Homo sapiens: one gene and its partner. The protein of the gene in region 1 interacts with the protein of each later gene in a biochemical or structural test. Each region holds a gene or a part of one and is shown in the gene's direction. Other genes may lie near its edges. The genes, in order: PRAM1 and RNF32.

What was found.
Region 2: the proteins of PRAM1 (region 1) and RNF32 form a complex in vitro, tested with the Homo sapiens proteins (one study listed by BioGRID and IntAct).

Annotation. Positions count from the first base shown.
Region 1 is NC_000019.10:8,489,403-8,492,783, reverse strand, and holds the end of PRAM1 (PML-RARA-regulated adapter molecule 1), read left to right. Parts: intron 1-1,626; coding exon 1,627-1,684; intron 1,685-1,788; coding exon 1,789-1,897; intron 1,898-2,027; coding exon 2,028-2,190; intron 2,191-2,274; coding exon 2,275-2,308; intron 2,309-2,411; coding exon 2,412-2,446; coding exon of another isoform or gene 2,447-2,557; coding exon 2,558-2,595; 3' UTR 2,596-2,728; downstream 2,729-3,381. UniProt on the Homo sapiens protein: May be involved in myeloid differentiation. May be involved in integrin signaling in neutrophils. Binds to PtdIns(4)P.
Region 2 is NC_000007.14:156,636,359-156,643,907, forward strand, and holds the start of RNF32 (RING finger protein 32), read left to right. Parts: upstream 1-4,415; 5' UTR 4,416-4,453; exon of another isoform or gene 4,454-5,676; intron 5,677-6,618; exon of another isoform or gene 6,619-6,729; intron 6,730-7,442; 5' UTR 7,443-7,519; coding exon 7,520-7,534; intron 7,535-7,549. UniProt on the Homo sapiens protein: May play a role in sperm formation.

The DNA of each region.
Region 1 (3,381 bases):
CTCAAGTGATCTGCCCGACTTGGCCTCCCAAAGTGCTGGGATGACAGGCATGAGCCACCATGCCTGGCCATGATATTTTACTGTCAACTATCATTGCCCTCCTGTGCAATGGAACACCCAATTTCTTCTTCCTAACTGTAACTTTGTACCCATGGGCCAGCCTCTCCTCATCCTCCCTTCTGCCTTAGTTTTTCACCCAAATCTCATTACAGTAGAACCCCAGAACCTACCGGGTGCAGTGGCTCAGGCCTGTAATCCCAGCACTTTGGGAGGCTGAGGCAGGGGCATCACCTGAGGTCAGGAGTTAGAGACCAGCCTGGCCAACATGACGAAACCTCATCTGTACTAAAAATACAAAAATCAGCTGGGTGTGGCAGTGGGTGCTTATAATCCCAGCTACTCAGGATGCTGAGGCAGGAGAATCGCTTGAACCCAGGAGGCAGAGGTTGCAGTGAGCTGAGATCATGCCATTGCACTCCAGCCTGGGCAACAAGAATGAAACTCCGTCTCAAAAACAAAAACAAAAACAAAAGAAACAAAAAAAAAAACGGCTAGGCACGGTGGCTCACGCCTATAATCCCAGCACTTTGGGAGGCCGAGGCGGGTGGATCACCTGAGGTCAGGAGTTTGAGACCAGCCTGGCCAACATGGTGAAACCCGTCTCTACTAAAAATAAAAAAAAAAATTAGCCGGGTGTGGTGGCATGTGCCTGTAATCCCACCTACTTGGGAGGTTGAGGGAGGAGAATCGCTTGAACCCAGGAGGTGGAGGTTGCAGTGAGCTGAGATCGCGCCATTGCACACTCTAGCCTGGGCAACAAGAGCAAAACTCCGTCTCAAAAAATAAAAAAGAACCCTAGACCCAACTTGCTCTAGGAGGCAGAAGTGAAATGGCCTCGAAGCCTACAGATAAATCCTGCCTTTACCATTTACCAGCTGGGTGACCTTGGGCAGTTTGCTTGACCTCTCTGAGCCTTTATTTCCTTGTGGACAAGTTGGGCATGACAGTGGCGTCTACTGGCATGAACAAGGTTGCTGAGAGGGCTGCCATGAGGGGCGTGGCCCAGCAGTTCCCACCATGCTGAGCACGTGGCAGGAGTTAAGGGAATGGAAGGCAATCCAGAAGAACCCATGACCCCTGAGAAAGGCTTGCGGAAGAAGGTGGGCAGGGAGAGGTTTGGGAGGGGACCTGGTGGGATTTGGGGAGTCCTCAGAACTGACACAGGGAGGCCTTACTCAAGATCCAGCCACCTGCCAGGCGCAGTGGCTCACGCCTGTAATCCCAGCACTTTAGGAGGCCGAGGCGAGTGGATTGCCTGAGGTCAGGAGTTCAAGACCAGCCTGGCCCACATGGTGAAACCTGTCTGTGTTAAAAATACAAAAATCAGCCAGGTGTGGTGATGGACACCTGTAATCCCAGCTACTCGGGAGCCTGAGGTAGGAGAATCGCTTGAACCCAGGAGGCGAAGGTTGCAGTGAGCCGAGATTGTGCCATTGCACTCCAGCCTGGGTGACAGAGCAAGACTTCGTCTCAAAACAAAAACACAAAAACAAACAAAAAACAGCTACCAGGGTAAAGGCTGAGCCGGCGGGCCCTGCCTTGACTCGGAGTCCTGACTGTCCCCAGATGAAGCGCCCTCAGTTCAGCAAGCCGCCAGGAGGCCACCACAAGACCCAGCGCTCAGGTGCCATGGGCAGAGGGGGTGGGCAGACGGGGGGCGAGCTCCAGGAACCCCCAGAGGAGCACAACTTGCTCACGAGCACACAATTCCTTGGTGGGGGCTATCAGGAAGGAGAAGGATCCCCAGCCACAGCAGTTGCCACCCATGGACCCAAAGTTGCTGAAGCAGCTGAGGAAGGCAGAGAAGGCCGAGAGGGAGTTCCGGAAGAAGTTCAAGGTGAGGCCTCTGAGCTAAGCAGGAGTCCTGGCAGGGCGGAGACCAGGGTCCCACCGATCCCAGGCTCAGAAAGAAGACAGGGGCCCAAGGGCGGCAGCACAAGCAGAGGCCCTAACATCTCGCGCCCCAGTTTGAAGGGGAGATCGTGGTTCACACGAAGATGATGATCGACCCCAACGCTAAGACACGTCGCGGGGGTGGCAAGCACCTCGGGATCCGGCGCGGGGAGATCCTGGAGGTGATCGAGTTCACCAGCAATGAGGAGATGCTGTGCCGGGACCCCAAAGGCAAATGTGAGTGCGCCCGGCCCCGCAGCCCCGGGAGGTCCCCGCCGCCACCCTGGGCCTCAGAACCCACCATGCCCACTCTCTCCACAGATGGCTACGTGCCCAGAACAGCGCTCCTGCCCCTGTGAGTGCCAGCCCTGACCGTGGTGGGGGAGTGCGGGGTGTGTGGTGCAGGGTGGGGGGAATGGGCCACGGTGCCCCTTGCTGACCCAACTGTGCTCTGCCAGGGAGACGGAGGTGTACGATGATGTCGACTTCTGCGGTACGTGGACACTCTGGGAGGGCTGGAGGGACCCTGGCGATTCCCCGGGGGCGCTGCTCACTATTGGGCTTCTGGGGAGAGGGGTCCATGGAAGTCACGCTTCCTCGGCAGATCCCCTGGAAAACCAACCACTCCCCCTGGGACGGTAAGACCGGTAGGCGTGGGGCCAGGACAGCCAGCCAGCCCAGCGCCCGCTCACCCAGGAGCCCTGGATCCCGGCGCGGGAAAGTCACAGAGCTGCCTGGGCTTGTACCTGGCCACATAAAGCCCCAGTTTAAAGCAGTCCCTGCTTCTTGTCTTTTCTTTCCCTCCTGATTGGCACACAGTGGAGCAAAGGCACGGGAACCCCCTGACCAAACACAAAAGGGGGTGTGTCTGGGGTCACCCTGCCATGGTCTCACCCCTCAGGGATAAAAGCCAGTGGGGAGAAAAGGGTGGCAAGAAGCTGGTGAGCAAGGGGGGCTCCGGGTGATCAGAACAGCATGTGCTACCAGGCAGGCAGCCGGGCAGGACGCGCCCCTCCACAGCCAACAGAACAGCAGCAGCCAGGCCTCCTTGCCAGGTATGCACACCTGCTTGGCCTGAGTGGATCCTGAGAGCGCTTCACTGGGGGAAGGGGTGGGGCCTATACCCAATTCTGACAGAGCCCAGGTATCAATCAGATTTGGCCTGAGCCTCTGGCAGGACTGAACACGCATGGAAGGTGGCACACAGTTTGGTCTGTTTCAGCAGGAAAAAAAAAAAGCCAGAGAACAAGCCTGACTCAGGCAGGGCCTGTGCCCCAGGGCGTTAACTTCACAACAGGGAGACAGGATGGCTTTCGGGGGGCTTTTTTTTTTTTTTTTTTGAGACGGAGTCTTGCTCTGTTGCCCAGGCTGGAGTGCAGTGGCGCGATCTCACTCACTGCAACCTCCGCCTCCTGGGTTCGAGTGATT
Region 2 (7,549 bases), on another chromosome or scaffold:
TGAGATTTGTGTGGGGACACAGCCAAACCACATCAGCAAGTTAGGAATAGAAATTGATAATAAATATACAAGTGTGGGAGGAGGGATAGCATTGGGAGATATACCTCATGCCAGATGACGTGTTAGTGGGTGCAGCGCACCAGCATGGCACATGTATACATATGTAACTAACCTGCACATTGTGCACATGTACCCTAAAACTTAAAGAATAATAATAAAGAAAGAAAAAATAAATAAATAAATAAATATACAAGTGTGAGTAGAAAGTTAAAGGTAATACAGAAGATTAAGAAAAATAAATGGAGAGATGGTTTTGGTGAAGGTTAAAATTGAGAACTAAATTAAAGATGAACCCCATGCCACCAATTTCTGCTCCTTAGGTTTGTTTTAGATGTCAAGGACTGTGTTAAGAGAGACAAGAGTCAAATAGGCACTGAGTAGGCTTTGAGAATATTTTGTACATAACAAAGGAGAAATGTGAGAGCATTAAGATACTAAAATGTGAGAAGGATATTGAACTAAGAACCATTCTGACCCTGCCTAGGCTTTCATTAGTGCAGTGTTTAGAGACTAGGCAGGTGGGCAAATTCAAATATTATGGGTATGATACATTAAGAATCCATAGGCCAGGCACGGTGGTTCACGCCTGTAATCCCAGCACTTTGGGAGGCCGAGGCAGGCGGATCACCTGAGGTCAGAAGTTCAAGACCAGCCTGGCCAACATAGCGAAACCCCGACTCTACTAAAAAATACAAAAATTAGCTAAGCGTGGTGACGGGCACCTGTAATCCCAGCTATTCGGGAGGCTAAGACAGGAGAATTACTTGATCCTGGGAGGCAGAAGTTGCAGTGAGCCGAGATGGCGCCACTGCATTCCAGCCTGGGCAACAGAGACTCTGTCTCAAAATAAATAAATAAATAAATAAATAAATAAATAAATAAATAAATAAATAAAAATACAGGGCCAGCACTAGTATCCAATATCATGATCTCTAGTGTCATCATGAAGAAAACCCCATCTTCCACAAGCTGGACTCCAACTGCCTATTCTAGTATTTGAACACTTTCTGTGAATTGCGCTCTACACAAGCAAAATATAAGATTTTCCCTTCATATCAATGTCTTCCACTTAAATAGTCCGCTATTGCCATCCATCTTGGGCTGCTCTTCCTTGGATAAGCACAGGTATCATCACTCTTTTTGTGATAATGTTTATACAACAGATCTCTTAGAGTACCACCCGCAGCTTTCTTCTTAAGCACAGTGGAGTACAGAAGTGCATCTTAATCAGCCAAGTACACTGGTGCCCTTCTCCTTGTGACTAAGCACCTCAACATCCTTAACATCATGCACCTCTAATTTTCTCTTCCGTCTCCACTATTCCTAGGACATTCAATTAGTGGTTTTGAAATTCTAAAACAATCATGTGGGTGCTTACACAAATGGCACTGAACAGCACCATGGAGAATGTACTCAATAGCAGTTTTCTGAAGATGTAAACATGCTTTGTATACATGCAGTTTCTCAGGCCCATCTCAAAAAAACAAAAAAACTTTTTTAAAACAAAAGGCATAATGTTAAAATACAAATCATTGATAACATGGTTTTGGGGACAAGATAGGTTGACTATATTTTTAATTATCCCTATCCAAGAATGTTGCATTCTGATCATCTAACTCATTTCAACAGAACACACTATCTTGAAGAATGAATGTATTCTTCAAATATCAACTATGTTAGCTTTGTTTTTGTCAAGAATTAGAAAGCAATAAGGTTAAATTTTCAGTCAAGCCTATACTTAACACAAATCGATTGCACATTTCAAAATAGCTAGAATAATTTGAATGTTCCTAGTGTAAATAGAAGATAAATATTTAAGGGGATGGATATCCCAATTACCCTGATTTGATTTTATGAATTTATCGAATTATCACGTTATCCAAAAACATGTTCATCTAATATGTATCAATAAAAAATAAATTTAAAAATAAAAAATTCACAATATTCTTCGTGGCTAACTGAAGAATGACCAATTTATTTTGAATAGAAAACATGCAGACAGAAAAACTATCATGAAAATTTAAACATGTGAACAGAGGGTAGGAATTTTAAAACGGTAATTTTTCTTAGAACTTTAAAGTTCAAGAAAAATACCTTAAAACCAACATAAAGAATAGCAGGCACTGTACTAAGCAGTTCACCCACAGTATCATGTTTTAATCTCACCACAGCCATAAGGCGGTAATAGCATGCATAGATATCATTCCAATTTTTCCTGTTGCAAGTAACAGAAAACCAGACCCCATCTGGCTGAAGCCAGTAAGAGAAAAGACTAACAGGAGGGCCAGCCTCAGGACTCAAATACGTCACCAGGACATGGGTTGCGTCCCAGTCTCAGCTCTGCCAGTTCCTGTAGAACCCTCCTTCCAAGGTTCACAGGGTGGCTACCATAGCTTCAGGCCCTCACCTCATGATAAGACAGCAATACAACTGCCATTTCATGTCTGTTGCTGTTTCTACATTCAGTTAGAATTAAATAAATTTTCCAGTAGCACCCACAAAAATACTGAGTCCACCTGGTTGGCCTACCTAGATATATCGCCAGCCCTGATCAAGTCACTGGTCACGGGCCTGGATTTTCTGGTTCGCTTAGGCTAATCATACGTCCCATCCCAGGACTGAAGAAGTACCAGGGCTGTTGCTGGAGAGTGGCTAATGTCCCCTTTACAAATAAGGAGCTCATGGTTTAGGAAGATGAGCTTGCCAAAAATCACACACTTGTAAAATAAGTCAAAATTTGAACTTAAGTCTACTTATCTGAGCCCAAAGTCTTACAACCATTTATGGCTGTTATCCTAACACCTACGTCGCGGAACGGAAGAGTCCTAAGACTGCAAAGACCCTTCCTTTTCTTCTAGATCCAGTCTAAGTTGGTTGGTAATTTCTTTAGACCCTGCTTTCAGGGAAGTTTAAAAAAAATTACTTGCATTTGTATATTTTCCTTGTATTTTCGGCCAAATTTCTTCTAATTAAAGTACAACATAAGTTGAACCAACACAATAATTGTCATATTAAGAAAAGATAAAACAAACTTTACTCATTTCTGCTTCTGGGCATGGAGTGTGAGGGACCAGACTTAAGTTCTCAAACAACTACAAAATCAGACCAAAAAATACAATGGTTTCCAGGCACCGGACGACAGGCAGTGCAGGGCTGTGATCCTTAAGAGAAGGGAAGCAGCGAGCCAGAGTATCCAGGCCACAACCCAAATGGAGGCCAAGAGAGGAACAGCAGAGGATACAGAGGGAGGGTTCCAGGGGCCAAGACGCAATCCGAGGGGAAGCCCTTCCGGGGAGAGCTGGAGTCCTGGGGTGGCCTTCTCGAGTCTTCCCGAGCAGGTCTGTGCAGCGAGGAAACATCCGAGGCTGGAGTGAGCCACGCGGAGGAGGAAGAACAGCCCGAGCTCACAGGGGCGGGGAAGAGTTCTAGCTCGCGACAGCCCCTGGGAGGAACCCTGCACTATTTGTGGCGTCGAGTAAAGCACCGGAAGGCTCTGCTCAGGAGCGTGAACGACACCGCCCGCTGCAAGCCTGGAAAGGAACGCGTTGCCTCAATTCACTCCGATGTGTCACACACGCGGCTCAGTCACCTAGGGAGCAGGAAAAGGCCAGCGGGCCACGCAGGGCTCACCCGGGCCTGCATCCAAACGCAAACGGCCAGGCCCACGAAGCAGGAAACACAACCCGCAACGAGAAGCAAAGGGATCCACAGAGAAGGGCCAGGAGTCACGGACGACGCCAGGCAGTCGGCGCCTGCGCTTCCGCGAGCCAAGACGCCTGAGCGGCGCGGGGGGATCGGGGGATCCCCCAGAAAACTGCCCTCGACTAACAGCGCAGCGAAGGGGCGGTGCGCTCGAGACCCTGGAACGGGAACGACCACAGCCACCGCAGGGAAACAACCGGGGCCCAGGCCCAGGTGGGCGGGCGGCTGAGGAGCGTGGCTGCGCCCACAAAGCCGCCGGGGGCTGCGGACTACAGCGAAGCCGGCGCGGGGCTCGGCCCTCACTACACGAGGCCTGGGCGCCTGCACGCCCCCGTGCTTCAGCCCGCGGCTCCCGAACACCCCCGCCAGGCGATCCCCAAAAACGCCCGCTGCGCGAGCCTCGACGGGAACGCACCTGCGTCTAGACGCTGACGCCGTGCGCGGGGCGGGGGCCGGCGAGCATGCGCAGTGTGGTGTGGACAGGGCGTGGTTGGCAAGCATGCGCAATGTGGGCCGGGCGGGGCTGGCGAGCATGCGCAGTATGGGGCGGGGCGGGGCAGGGCTGGTGAGCAAGCCCGCGGGGAGCGAGCGCGGAGGCGGGCGTTGCTACGGCAACGGTGGGCGGCCAGGGAGTTGCCTGAGGGAAAAGGGGCAGACGTCCCTGGGTTCCGGTGTTCGCGGAGGAGTCGAGGCACGGAGAGGCTTCGGGGGAGGGACGGAAAGAAGGGTGGCCCGCCAGGCGGGCGGGGTCCATGGATTCGGGGTGAGGGCCGTCCGCGGCCTCGCTTTCGCCTCCTCCGAGCCGGGCCGGCGATGGCCGCAGCTGTGAGGCGAGGTCGGGTCCCGTAGCGGCGCGCAGCCTCCTTGGGGGACTCGGGGTCCTGGTTAGTTTCCACAGCTCCTTCTATCTGAGGGGTACGAATTTACGGCTGCCTAAAGCCTTAGAACAGTGATCCCACGTCGGTAATTTTAGAACCCGGTAGGACCGGCTGCCATCAGGGGCCCCAGGTGCAGGGTGGTGTCAGCTTTGAGAGGAATTGGAGCCTCGTCACCGCGCGCTTCCTGCATGAGTGGAACCTCAGAAAACGGTCAGCGGGGTTCAGAAGGCAGGAGATAACACCAAGACCCTACGTAGGATTGCATCTTTACGTCGTAGGCTTGGTCTCGTGTATTTTTATTGAGCGTGTTTAATTAGCTGAGGTTACTCGCTTTGGCACCCCAGTGATCGTTTTTGCCACCAAGCTCTGCCTCTTGAGCGTTTAATACTGGGATTTACAAAGCAACGGGTTCCTGTTAATCTTAGCTTTCAATACTGGGCAAGGGTTACGTTTCTAACCCTACCAGTGCCGCAGGCTCATTATATATTGAAGGACTCACCTGGTATTTGGTTTTCTCATTTATAAAGTGGAGTTGGAGTAGGTACTTGAAGGGTTTTCAATACCTTTAAATTCTGAATTTTAAACTCTAAAACTTAATGATACCGTAGGACTTTAAGAGAGTATAGGTTTTAAAAGCTCTTACCTTGATATTAATGACAGTGGTCTACTGTGTAGAAACTTGAGATTAAATTGCAGACTGCAGCTATGACCGGACCATTTTTAGTGTGATGCAAACTGTATCTTCTGCAGGTTATAGGCATTTTGGAAGCAGGAACTGAGAAAATTCTGGCAGTGATCTTTCAGTATTTTAAATTCCACCATTTCTCCAAGTTCAGTTGTCTTGATGAGATACAGGGTGGAACTTATTTCAAACATCTCTTGATGCCAGAATTGAACGGGAACAGAAAAGGGCTGTAGTAAGAACCATCATCAAAGCCTCCAGGACTTGAGCAGCGACTGACGTTTTTACTTCTAACCCTGGATATCTCAGAGATTTGGTTCCACTGTGCTTTTCTATCTCTCCACTCACGCCTTAGTGAGTTTGTTCTTTCGGTTGGAGTAATTTAATACAAGTGTTAGTCCTTAGAAATACATTTTGGATTAATTTCTTTCTATTTTTAGAGTTAGGCCCTCAACACAGTAAGTCTTCACTTAACATCATCCATAGGTTCTTAGAAACTGGAGCTTTAAGCCATGCAGTGTACAAGGAAACCAGTTTCACCATAGGTTAATTGATATAAATAAGAGGAAAGTTCCCACAGCACATTCCTGGTCACAAAAACATCGCCAAACTTCTAAATAAAGACCAAAGCACTTCTAATATGAAACACTGAAGTACATATGAGCTCTACATTTAAGAAATATCATTACCCAATTTCTGGTGAATCCATGAGTGACCGGGTTGTGGAGGGGCTGTGTTAAAGATAATGTTGGCCAAGCCAAAGCTCTGAAGCACCTCCCCCTACCATGCAGTTTCAAAACAAACAGGAGCCACTTCTCAGCCCGCTGGGCCTTTCTTACTGCATCGGGTATTGTCCTGCATCTCTGTGTGAATACCGTATGCTTTACGAGTTTTTATTTGACAATAATTTGTATCCTTTCATTTTCCAACCTGCTTATTCCAGTTCAGGGTGGCAGGGGGCTGAGCCCATCCAGGCAGCTCAGGACCAAGGCGGGCAACAGTCCTGGAGAGGACGGCATCCCATGGCAGGGCACACTCACACTCACTCAGACGGGGACGCCCCAGTGAGCCTCACGTGCACAGCTTTGGGATGTGGGAGGAACCCGGGGTACCTGGAGGAAACCCACAGCACATGGGGAGGACGTGCAAACTCCAAACAGACAGTGGCCCCTGCTGGGGATCAATTTTTTTTCTCATCAGCGTTATAGGGAAACAACATTAGAAGAAATATGTTCAAGGGCCTTCTGTGCCAGTTCCTAGATTACTTGAATAACTTTCTATTTCTCCTCATCACAGTATATTTTGAATACATCTGTCTTCATAAAATACACCATGTCCAAAATCTAAAAGGGCCAATTCCAAATTATTCCACCAGCTTTGAAGGGAATTGAAGCAAGAATAACAAGAGTAAGTTCTGTGTGAAAAGACCTACTTTAGATACTTCAAAGGTTGTCTCATTAATCCTTGCGGCAACCCTGCAAAGCCAGCGTTATTATACCTGCTTTATAGATGAGGAGCCTGGGGCTCAGCTGTGTCCAGTATCTTGCGCAGCAAAGCGGTAGAGTTCAATTGGAACTCAAGTTGGTCTGTCCCCATATTCTGTACTTCTGTGTTCTGGACAGACTGAAGTTAGCCAGTGTTCCTCTTGCGTTCCAGTTTCTTCATTGTTCCCTTTCTCCCCAAAATAAGCATATCATGCTGATTTCCAGCCTGCCAGTTCTTTCCTCCTACCTGTAATGTGCCATCTTCATTTCCCTCTGTGTATCTTTCAAATGCCAGTTTAACTGGTTTTTCCAAGTCTCCAGTGTTAGCCTGAAGTTTTGTAGTACTTATGTATCATGTTATATTTAGCAATGGATTAATTCATAGTAATTAACCATTTGTATTAATGTGTCCTCAGGAGCTCAGGGGTGAACTATTTGAGGACAGGGATGAGTCGAAGCATAACTGACTTGAGTTCACCCCCTTCCTCCAGAACCAGAATGTGTAGCTTAGTGCCACCCTGTAGCAGGCATTCCTGCTGCTTCAGGATCTGTTAGACTCTTACAGAGCATCCTCACAAACTTCATGGTTTTTCTGTGCACTGTAACTTTGACTTTCTGTTGACCACGTCTTTGCAGCAGAAGAATAGAAGGAAGGTGATAGGATGTGATGATAGAATTTGTGATAGCCAAGCAACAACTTTTCCTAATTCGGCATGTTAAAAAATAAGGTACGCTATTCTTTT